Linked DNA regions of Homo sapiens. The protein of the gene in region 1 purifies or fractionates together with the protein of each later gene. This does not show direct contact. Each region holds a gene or a part of one and is shown on either strand. Other genes may lie near its edges. The genes, in order: COX16 and PDIA5.

What was found.
Region 2: the proteins of COX16 (region 1) and PDIA5 purify together in Homo sapiens (affinity purification with mass spectrometry; one large-scale study listed by BioGRID and IntAct). This does not show direct contact.

Annotation. Positions count from the first base shown.
Region 1 is NC_000014.9:70,349,575-70,353,396, reverse strand, and holds part of COX16 (cytochrome c oxidase assembly protein COX16 homolog, mitochondrial isoform 1 precursor), read left to right. Parts: intron 1-2,973; exon of another isoform or gene 2,974-3,822.
Region 2 is NC_000003.12:123,157,435-123,161,256, forward strand, and holds part of PDIA5 (protein disulfide-isomerase A5 precursor), read left to right. Parts: intron 1-3,822.

The DNA.
Region 1 (3,822 bases):
TAAAATTATATATAAATTAAATTAAAAGAAAGGTAGGGATCAAACTTTATTTTTTTCCAAATGGCTACATCTTTCAGCTTCAGAATGATGGATTAAAGCTAATTAGATTTTTTTTCTTTTTCTTTCTTTTTTTTTTTTTGACAGAGTCTCACTCTGTCACCAGGCTGGAGTACAGTGGCGCAGTCTTGGCTCACTGCAACCTCCACCTCCCAGATTCAAGCGATTCTCCTGCCTCAGCCTCCCGAACAGCTGGGACTACAGGTGCGTGCCACCACACCCGGCTACTTTATGTATTTTTAGGAGAGATGGGGTTTCACCGTATTGGCCAGGCTGGTCTTGAACTCCTGACCTCGTGATTCTCCCGCCTTGGCCTCCCAAAGTGCTGGGATTACAGGCATGAAACTAATTAGATTTTTGGATGACATGATAAAGTAGCAATGACAACTTGGGGATCTTTTAAGGTTACCACATACTGAGAAGTGTGGTAAATTTCATGAGATTTCTTTTTTTCTTTAGAAAAAAGTGGCAGTATTTACTTAAGAAGTGAAGATGTCATTTATCTGACCCAGAAATTCCATTACTGGATATTTTTTCTCCAGTATATGTGTACAAAAACAAATGTAGTTGGGAGGCTGAGGCAGGAGGATCTCTTGAACCCGGGAGGCAGAGGTTGCAGTGAGCCGAGATCGCGCCACTGCACTCCAGCCTGAGTGACAGAGCGAGACTCTGTCTCAAAAAAAAAAAAAAAAAAGAAAAAAAAAGAAATATATTTGTGTTAGAAAATGTATGAGTGAGTAGTGCACATAAATAATGTATGTAATATGCATTATGTTTACATATATATAATTATATAACATGTAGTTATAAAAATATCATATGTATGACACACATACAAATATAAAAAGATCTCCACTGGGTGTGGTGGCTCATGCCTGTAATCCCAGCACTTTGGGAGGCTGAGGCGGGTGGATCACTTGAGCCCAGGAGTTCAAGACCAGCCTGGGCAACATGGTGAAACCCCGTATCTAGTGAAAATACAAAAATTAGCTGGGTATGGCAGTGGATGCTTGTAATCCCAGCTACTCGGGAGGCTGAGGCAGGAGAATTGCTTGAACCTGGGAAGCGGAGGTTGCAGTGAGCCGAGATCGCTCCTCTGCACTCTAGCCCAGGCAACAGAGGGAGACTTGGTCTCAAAAAATAAATAAATAAATAAAAAAGTACAGACCAGTATTATATACTACACGTAAGTATCAATTCCTGGGTCAAATAAATGACATCTTCACTTCTTAAATAAATATTGCCAGGTTTTTCAAAAGAAAAAAGAAATCACATGAAATTTACCACACTTCCCAGTATGCAGTAATCTTAAAAGATCCCCAAATTGTCATTGCTGCTTTATCATGTCATCCAAAAATCTAATTAGCTTTAATCCCTCATTCTGAAGCTGAAAGTTCTAGCCATTTGCAAAAAAATAAAGTTTGATCCCTACCTTCCTTTTTATATAAATATACTTGTATTACCAATTAAATGATTAAATATTAAAAGGTATAAAACACTATAAAACATAAACTTTTATAATTTTGAAATTAAGAATACCAACAAAACCTTGAAGCTGTGACATTATTCCAGAAATCATTCAACTATCAAACAAGAGAATGAGTAAATAAACTGTGTTCTGTTTTTATAATGGAATACCATATAGCAAAGAAAATTAACTATAGCTGCATACAATATACTTTAATCTAAAATACATAATTTCTCACTAAAAAAAGTTACACCAAAGAATAGTTTTAATAAAATTCAAAAACAGAAAAGGCTTAATTATAGAATTTAGTTATTATATATAGATGGTAAAGTAAAGAAGAAAATCAAGAAGTGAATGCAATAAAATCTAGCTTTTGTGTTAACGGTAAAGAGAGGAAGGTTACCCTTTTATCTGCAAGGGGTATATGTGTTGGCAGTATTCTATTTGTTAAACTGGGTAGTTAATGCATTGTAGTTTATGTTACAATTATTATCTCTAAATTAATGCTTTATATACACTTTTGTGTGTATTTATTAATAAAATATTAATGCAGTGTGCAAGATGGTAAGCACGATGCATATTATGTCTCCGTTTGTATTAAAGGGAGAGTGTGGTATGTTTAAAATGTCTGTGCTTATACATGGATTGATGATTTTTTGAAGGACAACCAATAAGTTGGAAACAGTGGTTATATTGGGGGGAAAGACATAAATAAGATAGAAATTGTACCCTTTGAGTTCAGGCAAAATACTACCCTAATGAGGGCTCCCTACCCCTTTCATCCCCCCTTGAAGAATGGCTTCAGTCATTTAGTAGAAGGGCTAAGCTTTTGAAAATATTATTTTCTTCTTTTGTTAAATCAGCAAAATGTCAGGTATGTCTGCTTTTTCTGAGTTGTGTAAATTCCACAGTTAGGCTGATGCAAAAATATTTGAAGTCCAGTCTATAGAAGTTTTCAGTTAGCTGCTTTGAGATACAGCATTTGGTATTAACAAAGTTCCACAACATAAACCTTTGTAATACATTGCAGCACTGAAGATAGCAAATTGACCTAAAAGCACAAAAAGATGAATTAACCAAATGAATTGGATGAACTATTGTTTGTTCATTTTTAATTGTACTCAAATTATATTTCTTATTAGGGGAAAATGATAGGAGAACAGAAAGTAAAATATTAAACATTAAAATTGTTATTCTACTAAACACGTATAGTTAGGTGTAAGTTGGACAAAATCATTTGTGTGTTGTTGTTTTTAGAGAATACATTTATAAATGCAATGACAGTATTGTAAATATGTTTTCTTTGCATAGGAGAAGATAACTCTTAGTTAGCTGTCACTGCTGTATTGCTTCAATATGAGGTGAGAGGTGACCCAGCTGACTATTTGTAAGGTTCTTGTATTGGTTTGAACCCCGAGAGCGCGCCAATGTACAACACTGAGGCGGTATGGAGCAACATGCTGTTTTAATGAGCGCCTGGGTGCAGGCGGGCTGAGGCCTAAAATGGCGTCAACCCCAAGTGAGGACGGGACGAAAGTTTTACAGTCTCCTGTAAACAGGAAGTGTCCTAGTCTGACGTAATTGCTAAGTTGTAACTGGATTGGCCTCTTTCTGGGTCTTCAGGGGTGTGTCTTCCGGCCGGCTCTCTTCCTGCTTCTGCTATCTTCCTGGCGCACCCTGCTGGCGCAAGTAGCCTTGAGCCTTGGGACTGGGCCTGAGAAGGGAAGAGTTTTTCTTTCATCTCCTTAAGCTTTCAGGCCCCGGGGAGAATCTTACATTCCTGTCTATTTGGTTATAGAAAAGGGAAAAGGGATGACTTTCTCAATAACTACTTCAGGCGTGACATAGGGGTGGCGTGGGCACCTTGGAAAAAGAAAACCTTAATTTTTTGGGTATTCTTGAGAGACGGGCTGGTGTCCACCATGTCGTTGTATCAGGAGCATCATCTGGATTGTCTGGAAACACATCTGTGCCTGCAAGACAGTTATGTTGAGAGGACAAGGCGGTGTGGACAGGGAGAGGCATGGCCTCATTTGCTGCTTCACAAATGAAAGACCCTGTCTGGATTAAGGAGGGAAGGTAATTCCTGAAGGGCTCAGAGTCTGGTAAGGGTGGAGGCCCCAAGACAAAAGTTCAGCCATACATGATTGCAAAGGGACTATAAAAAGAGGGTGCTTTTGGTGTTGCGCAGAGCCTTATGAGGGCAAAAGGGAGATTTTTTTTGTCCACAACTGCTGGGTTTTTAGAGCCAGCTTGGTGAGTTGGGCTTTAAGGACAGAGTTCATTTTTTCAACTTT
Region 2 (3,822 bases), on another chromosome or scaffold:
CCCCTCTCCCTTTACTCGTGAGGGATCCAGGCCCAGAGAGGAGCTGTGTCCCTTGTTCAGGAATGCCCAGCGGGTCACTGACAGCCAGAACTGGGTCTCCTGACACCCCAAGCTGCCACTTCTTAGCTGGAATTGTGGGGTTTTTCCACCCAGAAGCCAGCCCCTGTTCCTATCCCAATCAATATGCAGTTGGTTGTTCACTTCCATTTTCATAGCCAAAGTCAATATTAGCTCCTGCAGAGATTTATTTTACTGAATCAATAAAGCTGTGTGTGGCAGCTCATATTTTAGCAGGGGAGCCTCCACCCCCTCCCGGGAGCTTACTTGGGGACTTTATCGGTTGGCACACTGGTGGGGAAAGGAATGCAAAGTGTTAGTGTTGGAACAGATGGTGTTATTGAAGGGGCAAGGCAGACAGGACCTGTGGTGGGCTGGCAAGCAGGTGGGGGGCTCACCTTTCACTGCACGTCAAGGTGTGCAGGCTGGGGGTGGTGTGGGGCCAGGTGTGAAGGTCACCCTTAGAGGGAGGCCCTGAGGCAGTGGGGGCCCCACCTCTGCCATGGGCCCACTTCACTGCTGGAATCTGGCCATGACATGTAGGTCCTCCTGTTTATGAGGCTGGCTACTGCCTTTTCCAAGTGAAAGCTCCCTCAGGACAGAGACCTCATTTGTCCTTGAACTCCCCACAGTCATGACACCTTAGACCTGTGTAAATGTTGACTAGGTGAAGGAACAATATAACATATTTGATATTTACTGCGAGCTCTTCTTCCACTGAAAGCATTTCTTACATCATGTTGTCCTTACAATAGCTTGCTCAACTAGGTATTGTTACAGTGCTCATATTGCTGAAGAGGTGATTGAATCTTAGAGAGATCATATGCTAGTTTCTCAGCTGGAGAGGGGCAGAGTGAGAATCGCAAACAGGCATTGTCAGAGTTTGAGTTCTCCCAGAAGCAGACCCTGCTCCTGGGCTCATGTGCAGGGAATTTATTTGGGAAGTGATCTCAGGAAGTTCAGAGAGGACCCTGGAAGTGAGACACGAAAGGGGAGGAACCAAAGCAGGTGTTTTATGGGCAGATGACTGGATGAGTCACCAAGGCTCAGTCCCACAGGAGACCTCACCAGGAAACGTGACACAGAGCTGTTCCACTCAAAGGCCAAAGAAGCCAGGGTCCTTGTTCTAGACCCCCATCTGTCATTGGCCTTACGTCCAGCTCCTTGAGGCTGGGAGGATGCTCTGAGGCTGAGAGTAGCAGGTGCTGTGGCAAGGGCTGGTCTGAGGGGATGTGGCAGGACACCAGCAGCGTGTGCCCCAGGATTTGTACCAACCACCATAGAACAAATTGAGAAATCGTAGGTGTTCTGTGTTGCAGGTGATCAGTGCAAATCTTGAGTTGGGTGTAAGGGGACAGGCATTTAGGTGAAATTTCAATAGCTGAGAAGAGCTTTATTCGCTGCCTTCTTTCCAAAGAGTCTAAGCTGCTGCCTTTGGGGAGGACGCATTTGTCTCTTCTTCTGTGGAAAACGCGCGTGGATTCACCTTTGCAGCTAGAAGTTGCATTCCATGTGTGCGGCTGGCAGCTAGTTTAGGTGATTCAGAACAAGTATACATTTCTAATTTAGTAGATTTATAAAACCATACACTATATTTCCAATAGCTCCAGGGCATTGTATACAAATTAAATTCATAATTTAAAGCAGATGCAGGGAGAGCAGCAGCCCAGAGCCATGTTCATCCAGCACTTTCATGGCGGAGCAGCAGCTCCTGGCCCGGGCTGGGCATGGGGCCTCAGCCTCTGGCTGCAGGGAAGGAAAGTATGTGGATGCCCGTGTCCCTGGGCAGGGCCCCATAGCACCTGCCCTGAGAAATGGAACCCCACAATTTGGCCAGGGGAGCATCTGCCTCATGTTTTTAAATAATAAAGTGCGTTAGAGGTGGGCTGCGGTTATCAGAAGTGCATAGGGGCCAGTCTGCTGGCCTGGGTGAACTGGGCTCCAGGGGGTGCTGGGGAAGGTATGTTTAGCCTACCTGAAGGACAGCTGCCTCTCTGCCCAGCCAGTTGTCACCTGTGAGACTGCAGGGTAAGTGCCATCAAGTCTTCTGACTTTTAAAGAGAAGCTGGAAAGCCAAATTGTTGTATTAAATCTTCTGGCTCCATTTCTATGTTGGAGCTAATTCAGATTTATTTTTTTTGTTGTTGTTAAATTCAATGTGGGCCAAATAGAAGAGGACTGAGAGCCAGATACAGATTGCAGGCAGCAAGTTTGTAAACTCCATTTTAAAAGTCTCACCGTATAGAATGTTACATAGCTGAAGAGTAGAAGGGAAGCGTGAGGGTGAGGGGGGTGAAGGTGGCACCTGGTGGCCAGGGGAGGCCGCACCTCACTCTTCTCTTCAGCTATCCATCTGGCAGCTCACCTGGGCATGAGGGACATGATGAGTAAACGTGGCCATGGGGGCCCACAGGATTCTCCTACCTGGAAAGGGGCTTTGTCCAAATGCAAATAACCATCAACCAAAGAACTGTGTGAATCATGGTTATTCAATAATTTTAAATTATCTTATTGAATCACCCTCTTTTAATTTCTTCCAAGCATTCATTGAGCTCTATCTAAAATGATCTAATTTGTCATACAGCAGACGCTTGATAACTGGACTTTGTCAAGGTCGACGTTGTCCCCCAGCATCTAGAACAGGCTTGGCACACGGCAGGGTTTCAGTGTGTGTTGCCTGGTAGGAGGACTCATTCTCATGGGAATCTGCCCCATCTTCCATAACACCTCTGTACTGGGTATGGCCATTGAGGACCCCTTCTCGGGCTTCCCTGGTGCATGACCCTCAACCGGAAACAAGTTCCCCATTTCTGCTTTATACTGTCTTCCTTTGAAAAAACAACAAATGATGAGGAAAAGCTACCCAGCATGTGGAATTTGCTAGATGGTCAAGAAGAGGCCAGTGGCCAATGTGGGAACCACTTTCTGACCAAACATTCTGATGGCTTTACTCATGCGGGGCTCCTCCAGTTTCCAGATGTGCTTCCCTGGTCTCCTCCTCTTCCAGTCTTGGCTCAGATGGCGAATCATACAGAGCGCCTTTGCCCCACTCACCTGGCACCTGGACCACCTCCCTCATCCCTCACATCACATCATGTTGGAATTGTCCCTTTATCCAACCCCTGCCCAGACACTGAGCCCCTAAGTGGGGACAGAGCTTGTATATGGGGTTGGAAGAAGTGACTGTAATAGCAGCTGACATTTCCTGACCATGAATCTGGTGCCAGGTTCTGTGCTCACTGGCCTCACTGGAATTCTCTTATTCAGTCTTCACAATATCCTGATAGCCTAGATACTATTATTATCCCCATTTTACAGCTGAAAAAAATGAGGCACCAAGAGGCTGAGTTATTTTCCTTAAGTCTTACTGTCCAGGCAAACCAAGAGTGCACTTGGGGAACTTGACTTGAAAGCTCTTGCCCTTAACCTTGGCACTATACTGTCCCCCCAAGCTAATGTTCCGGAAATATTAGTGGAGAAATGATTAAATCCTACAGTCCCTTACAGATAGCACCACAGAACCTGTGGTGTTTACAAATGCTTTCAAGTCATCATTTCCTTTACGATCATCATACTCTTGATTTTAAAGGACAGTCTAAAGGCACTCCAGGCCGAGTCCCCTAACCTTACCCATCTGGAAATTGAAAACAAGCACCATCAGTCTCCAAGGAGTCCTGAGCTGGGGGTGCTTTGGTTCAGTTCCTACCTGCCACTGAGGAGAAAAATCAGAGTGGGCCTGTGACGTGGACTAGATGTGCAATCTGT